Linked DNA regions of Homo sapiens: region 2 is linked to region 1. The links come from fine-mapping of genetic effects on gene expression. Tissue or cell type: esophagus muscle. Region 1 holds a variant in brackets; the other region holds the start of a gene. All regions are shown on one strand. Distances are between the middles of the regions.

Region 1 (8,100 bases):
GTTGAATGGGTGGGTGAAGACTAGGAGCTCTGTTTTGAGTTCTGTGACCTTGGTTCTGCCACTTGTGATTCTGAGCATTCATTTGCTCATATTTTTCACGAGTTAAAACTCTAAACTCTAATAGCTGCTTATGAAGTTTTAGGGGGGATAACAATGTAAATGGAATACGTTGTTCAGTGCCTGGCATAGAAATCAACGCTGATTTTAGTTTGCAAGGAGCCATGTAAGGTTTTTAAGGAGAGAAGTGAAGGCAAAAGATCTGGGTTTTAGAAAAAAGGATCACAGGGGTGTCCGTGCTAGTCTCCAACTACTGCTCTGAGCAAGCTTGGCCTCCTCCCTCTCCCTGGGCAGCTAGGGGCAGCTGGCCATTCCTTCTCCCCTTGATTTCCCTACCCCAGCCTAGTCTTCTCCACCCTTCCTGGGGAAAGCCAACCCCTTGCCTGGCAGGCCTCCCGGCAACCAAAGGACTTCTTTGAGGGAAGAAGCCACGTTACCCAGAAAAAATCAATAGAATCTTTTTCCAGGCAAATTTCAGAGACTTGTGAGAAGCAGCAGCAGCCTGGGAACTTGTCTCCCATTCAGCGTAGGAACCTCTTGCACAGCATTTGGCTATGAGGCCCTCAAAGTGGACACGTGTTCGTATCTCCTTTTCAGCAACTGCCCCGCTTTCTGGTAACAGCATGCCATCTTCCTTGAAAAGCCACCCTTGGCCATGCCAAGCCCAACAACATGGGTAGAGGTGACTCCTTCTCCTCCCTCACTGGAGGTAGGCATGGCCAGTGAACCAGGTCTGAGCCAATCGAGTACTGCTGCCCTCAGCCTACAGTGATTGATTCAGAGATGAGACTCAAGGAGGGCCAGCCGCAGGATTTTGGTTCAGTCTGATGATGTAACAGTCAGAGTGGACTGTGATATGCTGCAATATAACTAATACCTCCTAAATTCTCAGTTACAGTGACTCAGGTTTTTAAAAATTTTTTTTATTAATTTATTAATTTTATTTTTTATTTCAATTGGTTTTTGGGGAGCAGATGGTGTTTGGTTACATGAATAAGTTTTTAATGGTGATTTCTGAGATTTTGGTGCACCCCTCACCCCAGCAGTCTACATTATACCCAATGTGTAGTCTTTTATCCCTCACCCCCTCCCACCCTTTCCCGTGAGTCCGCAAAATTCATTCTGTCATTTTTATCCCTTTGTGTCCTCAAAGCTAACCTATCACTTGTAAGTGTGGAATGTTTGGTTTCCCATTCCTGAGTTACTTCACTTAGAATAATGGTCTCAAATGCCATCCAGGTTGCTGTGAATGCTTCGATTTTATTCCTGTTTATGGCCGAGTAGTATTCCATGGTGTATATATATCTATATATCACCTTTTCTTTATCCGCTCGTTGATTGATGGTCATTTGGGCTAGTTCCATATTTTTGCAATTGCGAATTGTGCTGCTATAAACATGTGTGGGCAAATATCTTTTTTGTATGATGACTTTCTTTTCCTCTGGCTAGATACCCAGTAGTAGGATTGCTGGATCAAATAGTAGCTCTACTTTTAGTTCTTTAAGGAATCTAGTGGCTCAGGTTTATTTTTTATTTTTTATTTTCTTATTTTTTATTTTTAGATGGAGTCTTGCTCTGCCGCCCAGGCTGGAGTGCAGTGGCACAATCTCAGCTCACTGCAACCTCCACCTTCCGGGTTCAAGCAATTCTCCTGCCTCAGCCTACCGAGTAGCTGGGACTACAGGTGTGCACCACCACGCCTGGCTAATTTTTTTTTTTTTTAATTCTAGTAAAGATGGGGTTTCACCATGTTGGCCAGGTTGGTCTCAAACTCCTGACCTCAGGTGATCCACCTACCTTGGCCTCCCAAAGTGCTGGGATTATAGGCATGAGCCACCGTGCCCAGCCTGGCTCAGGTTTTAATGGCACAGAGCAGCCAAGATTGATTTGCTGCTTGTGCTCTGTGTGCACGGTGTACGCCTCCGGGAAAAACCAAAGGGCAAAAACCAAGTCTTCACCAACCAAGCTGGTGGAGGCTCTGCTCCACATCCTTCTCATCCACAGACTCAGGCTGATGGAGACTCTATCACCTGGAACATCATCAGTTACCACCACAGGGGGGAAGGGAACGTGGAATCAGATGAGTCTGATGTCAAATCCTGACTTTGCTGTTTAAAGCAAGGGACATGCCTGACCTGCTGGGTCCATAGTTACTGCTTAGCTCCGAGAGTATTGATTTTCCCCCTGTCCAATGTCTTCAACCCTATTCATTGTGTATTCAACCAGGATTTTCAAGGCTTGACTCAAACACCTGCCATTCAGAGATTCCTTCTCAAACTCATCTCATGGCCAGCACCTCTCCGTCATCTTAGCACAGAGGGAAGCACAAAGTAGGGGCTGTGCTCAGTGCCCTGTCAGTGTCTAGCAAAGGCCTAAGCACTCAGTAGGTGCTATGCTCAGTGTCACCCAAGGTGCTTTGCAGTGTCAGGCACAATAGTGGATGTTATTCTCTGTACCATCGGCAATGCCCATCCCAGTACCAAGCACATAGTGTGCTCTTTCTTTGCTGTTTCCTTTCCCTGAGTGTTTCTAGCAGTGTGTCTCCAGGAAGTTATGCCCCAAGACACTTCCTCCAGGTCCTCAGCCTCTTGCACGTTGGGACTTGGAATGTGCCACCTGGAGCTGCTATCAGGGTGCAGTCGGCTGAAATAGGTGGGGTGAGGCAAGCAGTCCTTGAAAAGATGGTCCAGGGCTGTCCTTCCCTGTGGGGGTCATCTGGGGTCAGTGAGCAGCGACTTGGCTTATGCATTTCCTCCCAGGGCCCCAGACAAAGAGAGAGTCCTTGGCAATGCGGTTACCTTGACAACTCTTTGTGTTGGAGAGTGAGAGAGAGAGGGGGAGGAAGGCAGCTCAGGGAAGCGGGGTGGCTGCTGGGGGAGGGGGAAGGAGCAGGGAGGAGCTGGAGGAGAAATCCACCTTTAAAAGGGAAGAGAGAAATGACTCCACTTCTGGGCAGAGGGAAGGAAGTGTCTTTATGGTGCAGGATGGAGGCTGGTCTGGGTGGGACATCCTGCCTCTCCTTCTCACCCCATCTAGAAATTCTGCCAGCAGTCTTAACATCCAGAGAACTAGGTCTGAGTCCCAGCCCTTCTTCTAACTTTCTATGTGACTTTGTGCAAGTTACTTTCCCTCCCTGAATCTGAATTTCCTCTTGTATAAAATAGGGATAATAATCCACAAGGTGACTGTGAGCATTAGCTGAGCATTTCAGGTAAATGAATAGTAGTGGGCCCCTAGTGAGTGTTAACTCCCTGGGGGCCATTATTCATTTGGTATTTTCTTAGTGGTAACCTGGGCTTAGTCAAGTGACTCCCTCACCTTGGTCAGTCTCTTTACCCAAAAAGATTGTAGAATTTCTATGGAACTTGCCAGAAGCTAAGTGGGTGCTGCTGGTAGCTATGGTTACTGATGTTCCTGCCAGACTCTTGACATTGGTGGTGGGGGTGGGGGTGTCAACATTACTGGAATTATTAATTCAGAATATTATGGGTCATCAT[T/C]GTGCAGAGGAGACCGATGCTCAGAGAGGGGTGGGGAGTCTGAGGTGTGCTTGAGGAAGAGACCTGGGAGAGGTGACCAGTGTGGGGGACACTATGTTGCCCAGCCCTCTGCATTCTGTGTCCGAGGGCCCCCCAGAGCCCCAGGACTTATCCTGACCCACCCCCCCAACCCTGTGTCATGCAAGCCCAAAAGCCAGCGTCTCTTCCTGGCTGCCCAGGACTGCTGAGATGCAGGAAGGTGGGCATCTGAGGTGTCAGTGGGAGACTGTTGGGGGTAGGGGTGGGAACCCTGGCTTCCTGAGAGCAGGAATGGTGGACATGTGGGACCCTTCTGCTGGGGTGGGGCCGGGTGCAGTTCCTCTCCTGCCTGAGGCACCCCATTCCATCACTTGCTGAGGCCTGAGCCCTTCAGCCACCATCTGGGGGATGCAGTCACAGCGGGAGATCGTGCTCCCCACTGTAAGTTGGCAGCCTGTTTATCAGTCTGGCCTAAGAGGTGCAGCTTTCCGAGTGATTTCCCAGATCCTGATCCACCCCAGAAAATGAGCACATGGAGTCTCGACACTCCCTGGGACCTCACTTAGCTCCCCAGAGCCCTTCTGTCTGTCTGTCCATCTCTCTCCTGCTTTAAGGAGTTGTCCTGTCCCTGGGCAGACAGACTCCCAGGATCTGCTGGGAAAGACCCGTTGGGCTCTGACCCCAAATGGTTTCTGATTGCTGGAGGGATGCACCTCTTAACAGCTATGTTCTATGCATGTTACCCGGGGGCAGGGGCAAACAGGAAGTGCTTCTGGTGTTCAGAGGGCTGGAGGAGTGAAGGGTGGGGGGCTGCCTGGAGGAGGTGGCATGCTTCTGGAACAGATGAAAGAAAACAGTAAGTGTCAGAGCCAGGTCCTTTCAGGACACTGTTAGTGGTGGACAGTGATGATCTCCATTTTACAGATGAGCAAACTGGGGCTCAGAGACATTAGGGACCTGATCCAGGTGGTCCAGAGGCCAAAGAGGCCAGGTTTGAAGCTGGGTCTGTTTGATCCAAACCTGGGGCTTGTTTCGTTGTGCCCTGGTGCAGCCCAAGATGCGCATGTCCAGGCGGAAGATGTAGCCAGGTTAGCGTAACATTGGGGATTCAGGAGGAGCCTGGTTAAGGGGAGTAGAGGGCATGAGAGGAGCGATACTAGCCAGGAGGGGGCAGATGGGAGAAGAGTTTGTATTTAATGCTGCTGGAAATCTGATGATGCCACTCCACTTGCATAAAACCCTCGGTGGCTCCCCAATACCCTTGCAAAAGCCATAAATCCTCACTAGGGCTTCAAGATCCACCTTGGCCCTGCTTCCCTCAGCAGCCTCATCTCTCCCTGTGCTGGCACATGCTCACTTCATCCCCTGCAGGTCCTCAGTCTCACTCTGGGACCTTTGCCTACCAACCCCTTCTCTCTGGAGTGTTCTGCCCCACTCCCCTGGATGACTCACCCCCCACTCATTCTCCTCATCTCCACCTAAATGTCACCTCCTCCAGGAAGACTTCCTTGATCTCCTGAGTGCTCGCAGCCCCCTCGGCTTTCCTGTCACTCCGATCTAATTATTATATCTTTAGTGTCTGTTCCATACCCCCTGCCTGCCCCCACCTTAGTCTGTGAGCCCCATGAAGGGCAAAAACCAAGTCTGTTTATCACTGGATCCTTAGTGCCAAGAATGAATGGTGCCGGCACATAGCAGATACCCAACTGAAATTTATTGAATAAATGCATGAATAAAGAATGAATGAGGTAAGAAACCAGTGAAATTTTAGGTAGGAAGAGTAAATTGACAGAAATTGGCTGGTCGTGGTGCAGGATCAGGGCAAAAGGAATACTGATTCAGACAGAATGTCACCCCACTGTGCCTCAAGCCCCCAAAGTGCCCCCGATTTCATCCCACTTCCTCTGTCCTTTGCGTGGAGGTGGGGAGGGGACTCAGCCGGGGCCCTGAAGACATCCCTGCCTTACTCCTCCCTCCCTTTCCCCCAGCCTCCACCTGTGGACTGGAACTCCAGGTACCTTAGAGGCACTCCTCAGCCCTGCAGCTTGCCAGGGGCACTGATTTCTGGAGAAAATCTTAATGGAAATCTCTCCAGCTATTTTTCTCTCTATGAGGAATTAGCAACCACAAAGTGCTGTTTTGCAAATGGTGGCCCTAAGAAGCTGCTTTCTCAGGGCTTCGGTGATCACCAGGAAGACCATCAGTTATTGAGCACCTGCTGTGTGCATTTTCCAGGAAGACCATCAGTTATTGAGCACCTGCTGTGTGCATTTTCCATGAACAGTTTCTGTTCTTTACCACCATCTTGTGTGGTTGGAAATTTCATTCTCTCCACTTTAGGAATGGAGGGAATTGGAACTCAGAGAGAAGAGATTTGCTGAGGTCATTCACTGGAGAAGGTTGGAAACCGTGTTCATGTCAAGGTCTGTCTCTGAAGTCCTTGAGTAACTTCAGGGTGGGCACCGGATCCAGCTGCTGTGGTTCAGGTGCGATTCCTCCACATACATCTACATCATCTTGGGCAAAGGCTCCAGCTTGCTGTGCCTTAGCTTCCTTATCTGTACAGTGGGCACAATAATAGTAACCACTTCCCTGCATCATTGTGAAAAGTTAATAGTTGAGAAAATATTTAAAGTATTTGGCATGACGTCGTATGTTCTCACTCATAAGTGGGAGCTAAGCTATGAGGATGCAGAAGCATAAGGATGACACCGTGGAGTTTGGAGACTCAGCGGGAAAGGGTGGGAGGGAGGTGAGGGATAAAAGACTACAAATTGGGCCGGGTGCAGTGGCTCATGCCTGTAATCCCAGCACTTTGGGAGGCCGAGGCAGGTGGATCACGAGGTCAAGAGATTGAGACCATCTGGCTAAGATGGTGAAACCCCGTCTCTACTAAACATACAAAAATTAGCTGGGGGTGGTGGTGCACACCTGCAGTCCCAGGTACTTGGGAGGCTGAGGCAGGAGAATCACTTGAACCCGGGACGCGGATGTTGTAGTGAGCCGAGATGGTGCCACTGCACTCCAGCCTGGCGACAGTGAGACTCTGTCTCAAAAAAAAAAAAAAAAAAGACTACAAATTGGGTGCAGTGTATACTGCTTGGGTGATGGGTGCATCAAAATCTCACAGCTCACCACTAAAGAACTTACTCATGTTACCAAACACCACCTGTTCCCCAATAACCTATGGAAATAAAAAGTTTTAAATAATTAAATGTTTGGCACAGCGCATTAGACACAGAGCTCAGTCAGGTTAGCAGTTTGCATTAAAGTAAACCAATTTTGTTAGGTGCCTACTAGATGCTGGGGCTATAGCAGGGGAACAGGGCAGAGCCCACCCTCATGGTCTTACCTTCTGGCATTGCCACGCCACATGATATAAGGTATTCTTCTCTGAGCCTTGAGCCATGTCTACATTCACCCATTCCACAAATGTTAGTTGAATGTCTCGTATGTGCCAGGCAGGCCAGGTAAGGAGTAATACGCTGCCTCTCCCTGCAGGTAGAAGACAGGTAGAGGCAGGGGTCTGAGATGAAATAGATGAGAGCTCCAAGGAAATGTGTGTTGGGATTACGATTTGGGAAGAAGAGCGTCAGAGAGAACCTTCAGGAGTCATTAGAGAGGGGAGGGTCATCCAGGAGCAGGACACAGAGCATACAAAGGCCTGGAGTCACATTAAACTTAGTGGCTATTGGACTCCTTTTCTTTCCTAAACTCTGCAAATAGGTGTGATCAGGGACATGGCAACTTTAACCCTGACCGGCTTTATATTCACTACCTGTATCCTCTCACTTAATCTGCACAACAGTCCTGTAGTTATTGTTGTAAACGTGTAGGGATAGAGTCTTGCTTCTCTTATTTTACAGAAGCAGAGAGGTGGAATGCTGTGTCCAAAGGCACCCAGTTATCGGGTCGCCAGGTTTGCAAACACAAGCGCAAAAACACAGCATTCCCAGTTAAAAGTGAATTTCAGATGAATAATGAGTGATTTTTTTTAAAAAAGATAAATCTATCCCCTAGAGATCTTTGATATACTAAAAAATTATTTGCTACCCAGTTTTTGGTAACCTCACCCCATTTCCTTTCGTTTCTTTTCTTTCTTTCTTTTTTTCTTTAAGATGAAGTCTGGCTGTGTCGCCCAGGCTAGAGTGCAGTGGCATAATCTCGGCTCACTGGAACCTCCGCCTCCCGGGTTCAAGCGATTCTCCTGCCTCAGCCTCCCAAGTAGCTGGGATTGCAGGCGCCCGCCACCAAGCCCGGCTAATTTTTGTATTTTAATAGAGATGAGATTTCACCATGCTGGCCAGGCTGGTCTCGAACTCCTGACCTCAGGTGTGATTCGTCCGCCTTGGCCTCCCAAATTGTTGAGATTACAAGGCGCGAGCCACCGCGCCTGGCCCTCACCCCGTTTCTGAACCTCATTTAGCCTGTTTTTTTTTTTTCCTTGAAAATAAAGGTGGTTGTAATTATGATCTGGATTTCTTGAGGGCCTACGACGCACCAGGCTCTGTGCTAAGTGTTATACACA
Region 2 (8,102 bases), 80 kb before region 1:
TGCTCAGTGCGTAATTGTCATTTTGTGGGGGACTTCCTTGGTGGGGCTTTTCCATGCTTTTCCTCTCCCTGATGGTTACAAAGAGGAGACAGTCAGGATCTGGGAGGAGCTGGAGCCTTCCCCCTGTGCTGTTGAACTCTGGGAGGGGCAGCCAGAGGGGCTGAGAGTGCACCATCCTGAAAAGAGAGGGTCTTTAAGAGATAAGATTTAGGCTAGGGAAATTCACTAGAAAGAGACAGGTGGCCCTGGGTTTTTTTTCCTGCCATCCAAAGGGAACCAGTCTTACCCAAAGGCTTAAGGGGTCACCTTAGCCCAGTCTCAGGACACTCTTCTCCAATCAGATCGCTGCTTCTAGTTGCACTGCTCCTGGATTCTGTTCTTGGGGAACAGAAGGTGGCAGGACAGGCCCCACAATCTGCAATTCCAGCTCCCTCCAGAGGAGACAGTCCCAGCGTTTGCAAGAGAGCAGCTTGTGGCCTCCCTTAGGCAAGTTTAAAAGCCAGATGTCCTTTTTCCCAGAATGCGGAGTGGTGTGTACTATTCATCAGCTTGGGCTGCCACAGCACCATGCCAGACTGGATGGCTTAAACATCAGGAATTTATTTTCTGCCAGTTCTGGAGGCTGGAAAGTCCAGATCAAGGTGTTAAGACTTGGTTTCTGGTGAGGCCTCTCTCCTTGGCTTGCAGGTGGCACCTTCTCACTATGTCCTCACATGGCCTTTTCTCTGTGGAGAGGGACAGAGAGCATGAGCAGGCTCTGGTGTCTCCTCCTCTTCTTATAAAGACACTAATATCACCATATTAGGGCTTAAACCTATGACCTCATTTAACCTTAACCCCTTAAAGGTCCCATCTCCAAAAACAGTCACATAGCAGGCTACTGCTTCAACATATGCATTTGGGGGAGGGGACACCATTCAGTTCTTAACAGGGTGGTCACCGCAAACATGGAAAGTCAGAGCCTTCTCCCCTTCAGAATTCCCGCCCCCACCCAGGGATGGGGAGGAGGAGCAGAGAGGTATGGGAAGCAGACACGGAGAGTGGCAGGTACCATGCTGGGGTGGCTCAGGAGTGCTTCGGAGGACATATGGAACTGGCAGGGCTCAGTGCAGGGAGGCGGAGGCCCTGGGAGAGCCGTGTCCTGAGAAGGGCCTGGGCTACAACCCTGGGCAAGTTACTTCACCTCTGAGCCTCCGATGCTCTGTGAAATGGAAGGAATGTGCTTGCCTGTCAGGTGCAGGGAGAATTCAGTGAGATTGTGTGCCTAGCACAGTGCCTGACTCCCAGTAGGTGCTCAGCAAATGCTCCCATCCATCTGGGAGTATAGACTTAGGGTTTATCTATTTTTTTTTTTTTTTGGCTCTCTGGACTTTAAAACTCAGCATCTTCTGAACCAGAGGCATTTCTGATTAGCCCTTCCCTACCTATTTTCCTAGTATCACTCTTTAATCAGCTTGGGGAGGTGGCAGCATTTCATGGCCTCCGTAGTAACTCACAATGCTTCCTGGGGTATTTAAATTCTACTCTCTCATCAGCACTGAGCACCTACTTTGGGCCCTTTCCCGTGCTAGCCATTTGGGGGAAATATAGGTGAAGAGTGGCTGGGGTTTGAACCTTTAGGATTTCACAGCCATGCTGGATGGGATAAAACCAGCTCACATGGAGAATCAGAGAATGGGACAGTGCCACAAAACAGTCTACTGAGGCACAAGTTCTGAGTGCCTGGGAAGTGGTAGAGAGACCCCAGAGAGGGCTGCTGCAGTCTGGAACAGCTTCCTAGCAAGCTGTACCAAACAGGGCCTTGAAGGATGAGAAAGATCTGGCTGAGATGATACCCGACCCTCTAGGGAAATTCTTAAAGTAACTTCTAGGAAATGTCATTGCTCCTTAAAAAAAAAAAAAAAAAAAAAAAAGCAGGTTCTAATTCAAATTCCGCTGCACTACTGAAGTAGTGCAGGACTTATCAGAACCTTTAAAATGCTAATGGCAATTTCAAATACTCAGGGACAGGGCATAGGATGAAGTGTTCCTTGACTTTTATGGCCGTAGAATCTTTTTCTCATGGAACATCGTTTAGAACTGTGGGAGATGCTAGGCTGGGGTTTCTATGGGAAAAGTACAGCAGTGATAGAAGATGGCATAATTAGGGTACACTTAGGTGCTTTGTAGCATTGGCTGAAAAGGAAGCAGACCGGGTGGGCGTGGGGGAGTCTCAACTTGGTTCCAGGAGCCAGGCCAGCTTGATGCGTTTTTTTTTTTTCTAATGGTGGGAGGGCAGGCCAATAGTTGGAGAAACTAGAGGCCTGACAGTCGGTGATGGAAGAGATGTCTACTAAGCACGGTTGTCAGATCTTTTGCGGAGAGATGCGGGTGTGCGTGTGTCTGTCAGAGTGTAACAGGATCCAGCCCTCTGGGAAGGGGCTGACCAGAACCAGGCAGGGGGTTTCTGTCTAGGACAAGTAGGGTCCATTTTCAGGGGAGCTGAAATATTTGCAGGGGGTGCTCTGAGACCCACAGCCAATAAATAGGGAAGCAACATGCTTTTGGGCAGGGTCCATGTGGTTAGGGTTGATTTTGATGGGGCTGGGGGGCTTAGAGTTAGACCCCCTGCCCTGGTCAGGCCCCACTCCCTGGCTGGTGGGGGCGGGAGGCCTCTGAAGCTGCAGCTGGAGGGGCCGGGGCAGTGTTGCATGGTGTGATTAACCTACTAACCCAGGGCTCAGCCGGGACGCTGTGGCGTGTGACGAGGTGCCTGGCCTTCTGCCAACCAACTAACCCACTAACCAGGCCCGAGCATGCCCTACTAACCACCCCCCCGCAGCCAGATCCTACTAACTGTGCAGCTCATGGGCCTTTCAAGGGGCTGGGATATGGGGGCAGCCAAGGCTCCAGAAGGCTCTGCCTATGGGCTGGGATCTTTGTGCAGACCCACGTTCCAGGACAGAGAATGCAAATAAGACTCACCAACTCTGCCACTTCCTGTTGAGTGAGTTTGAGTAAGTCACCTCACTTCTCTCAACCTCAGTTTCCTCAGTGGTAGAATGCGAGTTCTGATACCTTACAGGTTGCAGTGAGGATTCCCGTCAATATAAGGGTCTCAGCACATGGCAGACACCTAAAAAAAAAAAAAGTATGAGGATGGAGGAAGGCCCCTCAAACCTGGTTGAACACGTCTGCTGCCTAGGCCCTGGCCTCTCTGGGTGTTCTGCACACAGATCCTTCTGCCTGGGGCAAGACACTTGGCTTTGAATCCATGTCACTTCCCCACATTCTTCCTCCGTCTCAGCTTTCTTTTCTGTAGGCAGCTCTTTTGTTCGATTACTAACCCGTCTAACCCCTGGGGTGCCTCAACTGCACCCCGATCATCCCTTAACAAACTAACGGACCTGCGTGCGTTCTTCCTTTTCTCTTAGCGACTCCTGTGTGTGTCTGCTGAGGTGCCCTGTCCGCTGGTGCTGTGCTCTGACTTACTAACCCAGCCCCTACTAACCCTGTTTTCTCTTCTTACTAACCCCAGCCCTGCCGAGCTCTGGGCTCCCCCCGGGGGCTGGTCCCCCTCCTTTTGGCAAGCAGATGACCTGGGGCTACTGGCCCTGTAGACAGATGTCCCACTTTGCTGCCCCATATTGGCTGTAAGATCAGAGTCCACTGGGCCAGGTCTAAGGCAGGGGATGGCCCTATTAACAAGACTCAGAGGAGGAAGAGGTGGTCCTGTGGATGTGGGAGGCTGGACTCTGAGTATGACATCTCTCCTATGTGCAGAAGTCTGGTTGCCACTGGGAGTAGGTGGGACCAGGGAAATCTCTGGGACGTGAGTGTGGAGGCCTGTTGGTCTAGACTCTAGACTGTGGAGCTCTGAGCTTTTGTGTCCTCTGGAAGGAAGCTGGGGAAGAATCCTCTCCATTGTTAAGTGACGGGGATAGAAGCTGTCCTGCACAGGAAGTCACGAGGGGGGCGTATCCCACGAGGAAGGCAGGAGGGGGCGTGCCCCTCACCGGAAATTAGCAGAGGGGCGTGTCCCACACCGGAAGTCAGAAAGCGGAGCCTTTCTTACACCGGAAGTCAATGAAGCGGGTCTTTCCTACGCTAAAAACCACTGAGTGGAGTATTTAGTACACAGGAAGTCGGCCAGAGAAACATTTCTCATATTTGAAGGCCGGAAAGAGGGACATTTCTGACACCGGAAGTCAGTGAGAGGACTCTTTCCCACACAGGAAGTCAGCTAGAGAGCCGTCTCCCCTCTCTGGAGCCGAGAGAGGCCGGTTTCCCCCACCGTAAGTAGACGTGGGGCCGTGACCGGAAGTCCTTGGGAAAGATCCGTCCCATTCCCGGAAGCTAGAGGGCGTTAGTTGTCGGGTTGAAAAGGGGTGTGGGGAGGGGAAGCAGCTTTACCCCGGGCTCGGAGTTTGCAGGAGAGAGAAGTGGGGAGCAAGAAGTGAACCTCAGGGGCTCACAGGGTTCCCGCAGATGCTCAGGCCGGCCAGGAATGCATCTCTGGCTCTCTGTTCCCACGGACGTCACTGCCTCAGCCAGCCTCCCCCAGAGCCCGCCAGCCGCTAAGCCGGGGCCACACCTGGGGGTGATTTCATGCCTCACCTCCAGTAGGCACCTTGGTTTCTTTGGGCTAATCTCTGGCTCCCTTGCGCTAACTCTTGCTCTCACCCAGCTAATCCCTGCCTCACCCTGACTGCCCCAGGGGCTGACCACTAACAACCAACCTGGCCCTGTCTGGGGGTTCCAGGCTCCTGGCCTGGCCCTGACCGGTTCTTAATTAACCTTTCCTTCACCTTGACTAACTCCTGCCTTCCTGGTCTGTTCCTTTCAGCAGAAACTAATGGTTTGTGGATTTTTTTCTGACTAACAACAGGTCTAACATTCCTCGTTACTGTTAACAGCTTGGATGTCGGCATGGCTGGGAAGGGGCTAACACAGCTTTGAACTTGGCTAACACAGGTTTGAACTTGGCTAACACAGGTTTGAACTTGACTAACACAGGGAAAAGCATAGCTAACAATTTTGGGCGTGGTGGCTGCTCTGAGTCAGAACAATCAGAAGTCGGTAAAGATGGTAGTTTTCTAAAGGAGGTGCCAGGGCTCTGGTGTGGACCAGGCCTGATGGAGCAGTGGTACCCACCAAGGTGGGGTCAGAAGTATAGCCAGTCTTGCAAGGTTTTGGCCATTGGGCATATCTTCACTCCTCATAGTCTGCATTTGGTTTCAGTTCTTAAAAAAATATAGCCTTATAGCTACAGTAGTTTGCACAAGTAGATGCAGCTCTTATAAACCTTAAAATACCTGTCTGGTGTCTACAGAGCATATGCCATTTTGTATAGAGTCACCCTTCCCCAGGCCAGGGCCTAGAGTCTTCATTTTGGGGACTTTGTGTTTTGGAAGTTCTAGGACATAAAGCTTTAGATCAGAGTATTCAGAAGGGTTATAACTCCGTCAGTCATTTACATGTTAGTAGTATAAATTATCTGAGCTTCCTGTTCTAACTTTTAGCTCTTCTAGCATAAACTCTTCTGTGCAATTTAGCTGCACCGAGGAAACGGGAGTTTTTCTGGAAGGGACTTTTGATCTCTTTAGACTGAGGGAACGTCCTTTGGGAGTAGAGGGGCAGGGAGCATACGCAAGGGATTCCAGGTGCAGGTAAAAGGTGGCACTAGTTCAAGGTTTTGCTGACTCAGTCTGGTAGTCAGAGTCTGCAGGAGAAGACAGTTCAAGGCAGGGCCTGGAGGATTGGATCAGTTTAGGGACAGGTCAAAGGCTGGCTTACAGACCTTAGAGGCAGGTTGCTTGGGTCGTTGAATGCTAGTCTGGTGCTGAGAGCCCTTTTCTCTGGCAACTGTGGACTCAGAGCTAACCAATTGTAGTTGGCAGTGGGGGTGAAGGGTGATCCAGAGGCCTGAGCTGCAGAGGGCACAAGAGAGAAAAGATGTCTTAGAAAGAGCTTTGAGAACATGCCTTGGCTGCTGGCAGGGACCTTGGATGGGGTAGTCTACACCCGGAAGTGCCTGCCTGCCATCCTCTAGTGGCTGCCTTGCTCCATTTCACTCAAAGCAGGAAGCTCACACCTCCTATTCCTGAAACTCCTCTTTGTTTAACTGCAAAGACTTGATGCTGCTAAGGATCTACTATGTGCCAGGCACTGCTCTGGGCGCTGGGACCTGCACCTGGGCTTTTTCGTCATGGTGCTTTTATAGCCTAGTGGGAGAGTTGGTGAAGTAGATAGTGATTCAGTGAGATGGGTGTTATGATTGGTCAGGGGTCTGTGGGAGCACCAAGGAGACAGACAAGATTGATGTGCACCTACTCTGTGCCAGGCGTGTGCCAGGCATTGGGGATGTAGTGGTAGTTAAACACCATTTGGTCTTCAGGAGCTTTAATTCTAGTGTGTTGGGTGCAGGGGGGTGGAATGGGGACAGAGAGACACCTAATCCACCCTGTGGTGGCTTTCTGGAGAGGGAGGCATCTAAGCTGAGCTGTGGCTGGGTGGAGTGTGGGTGGGGATGAGTTCCGGGCAGCGAGAGTGGTGGACACCAGTTTCTGGGGATCAGAGAGGATCCAAAGAGGTTCTGGAAGGTTCATGTGGAATGTAGCAAGAGATAGGAGACATGGACATGGTGCCGGGTCTGGTTGCCAAGAAGTTTAGATTTTATCCTTAGGCCTTGGGGAGCGACGGATATGATCTGAGAAAGGGAGTTAGTGGATTTGAGTTTTAGGCTGGCCATTTGGCTTTTCCAGCCCAGGTGGAACTCAGAGGAGTTTGCAATGGCCTCTGGCCACATTTTAGACAACTGAGCAGAACTTTTTGAAACTAGGAAGACCCTTTGGTCCATCTTTTGATAAACAGAATCCATACATGTCTACCCCAGTTGGAAGTATCTCTGCAATGACTGGAAAGTAAAGAGGACCAAGGTGAAAATAAAGGCTCGGAAGGGGAGCAATCTTGAAAACATGTCATCCCATGGTGGTGGGAAGTCCCTGGAGAAGATCAGGGGAAACACAGTCATAGGCTGCAAGTCTATAAGATAATTCCATTGGGGAGGGAGCCCATTTGTCATGCATGGCTGCAAGGGGCAGATACAAGTGTGGAGTAAGCTTGCAAGAGCTGATCCTGGTCCCAGAGAGGGAAAAATATGCCTTGGTGGGTAATGAACCTTTTGTTCCCAGAGGCAGAAGGATTGGGACTAGGCCAACATAGAGATTGGCGATGGTTGTGAGATTCTAAGAGTGTGTGTGCATCTTGACAATATTAGAGGAGGCTGAGCCCAAGCAGGCACATTCTCTTCGACCCCTCCCTCATTCAGTCTGCTTTGGAGTCTACTGAACATCAAGCTTGCTATGAGCAGGATCTTAGAGCTGAGGAATTGGCCTCCCAATCCGAACAGGTGTTATAATCCTTTCTTAATAGGTTGTGCTGTGGACCCAATGTGAGGGCTGTGCTGGTGTAAATGGTGACATGTTGAGCTGGGGGGATGCTTTCGGGGTGGGGGGACTGGTTCCATTCCATCAAAGGCCCTCTTGAGAGTCTATCCAGGGACCCATTGTTTTACTTTAACAGACCAGAAAAGATGTTTGTTTTCCATGTCATTACCCCCAGGGGATACCGAATGTGTGGGTAGAAATTTCTCTGTAGATTAAAAATCAGATTTTTACATGGATTCAACAAAGGAGCGTCACTTGGATTTTTGTTTTCATCCATGAATGTAGCTGCTTCTGTGTAAAATGCCATTTTGCTATTAAAAATCAATTCACGCTGGAAACATGACTGTGGCCTATGAAGCAGAAGGGACGTGCTGTTTAGGGGAGAGGGGGCAGCCAGTGGCATTCTCAAGGAGCAGGGGTGGGCTCTCTCGGTGAGTCAGCCTTTCCTCAAGAGTGACCCTAGAAGTCAATATAATAGGGTATTTTATTTTTTAATTTTGGTAAAATAATCATAACATAAAACTTCACCACCATAATAATTTCTAAGTGAACATCTTGGTGGTATCATTCACATTGTTGTGCAACCATTATCACCATTGGTATTTATTTTTCTTTTCTTTTTTTTAGAGATGAGGTCTTGCTATGTTGCCCAGGCTGGCTTTGATCTCCTGGTCT

Evidence for each region. PIP is the estimated chance that this variant, and not a neighbour inherited with it, causes the effect.
Region 2: it holds the start of MIATNB, and the variant in region 1 is fine-mapped to the expression of MIATNB in esophagus muscle (GTEx, PIP 0.93).

Annotation. Positions count from the first base shown.
Region 1 is chr22:26,748,604-26,756,703 of GRCh38, forward strand. The region is part of intron 2 of MIATNB (MIAT neighbor); the gene reads left to right. Among named protein-coding and RNA genes, the nearest start is that of MIATNB, 80 kb to the left of the region's middle. RefSeq lists enhancers at 2,411-3,408, 3,409-4,407, 4,408-5,405. The variant T/C (reference allele first, on the strand shown) is at 3,555.
Region 2 is chr22:26,668,714-26,676,815 of GRCh38, forward strand. MIATNB (MIAT neighbor) reads left to right here and starts at 4,130. Exons shown (of 6, transcript NR_110543.1): 1 at 4,130-4,274. It overlaps MIAT (myocardial infarction associated transcript), which reads left to right. Exons shown (of 5, transcript NR_033320.3): 5 at 1-7,765. RefSeq lists an enhancer at 1-446.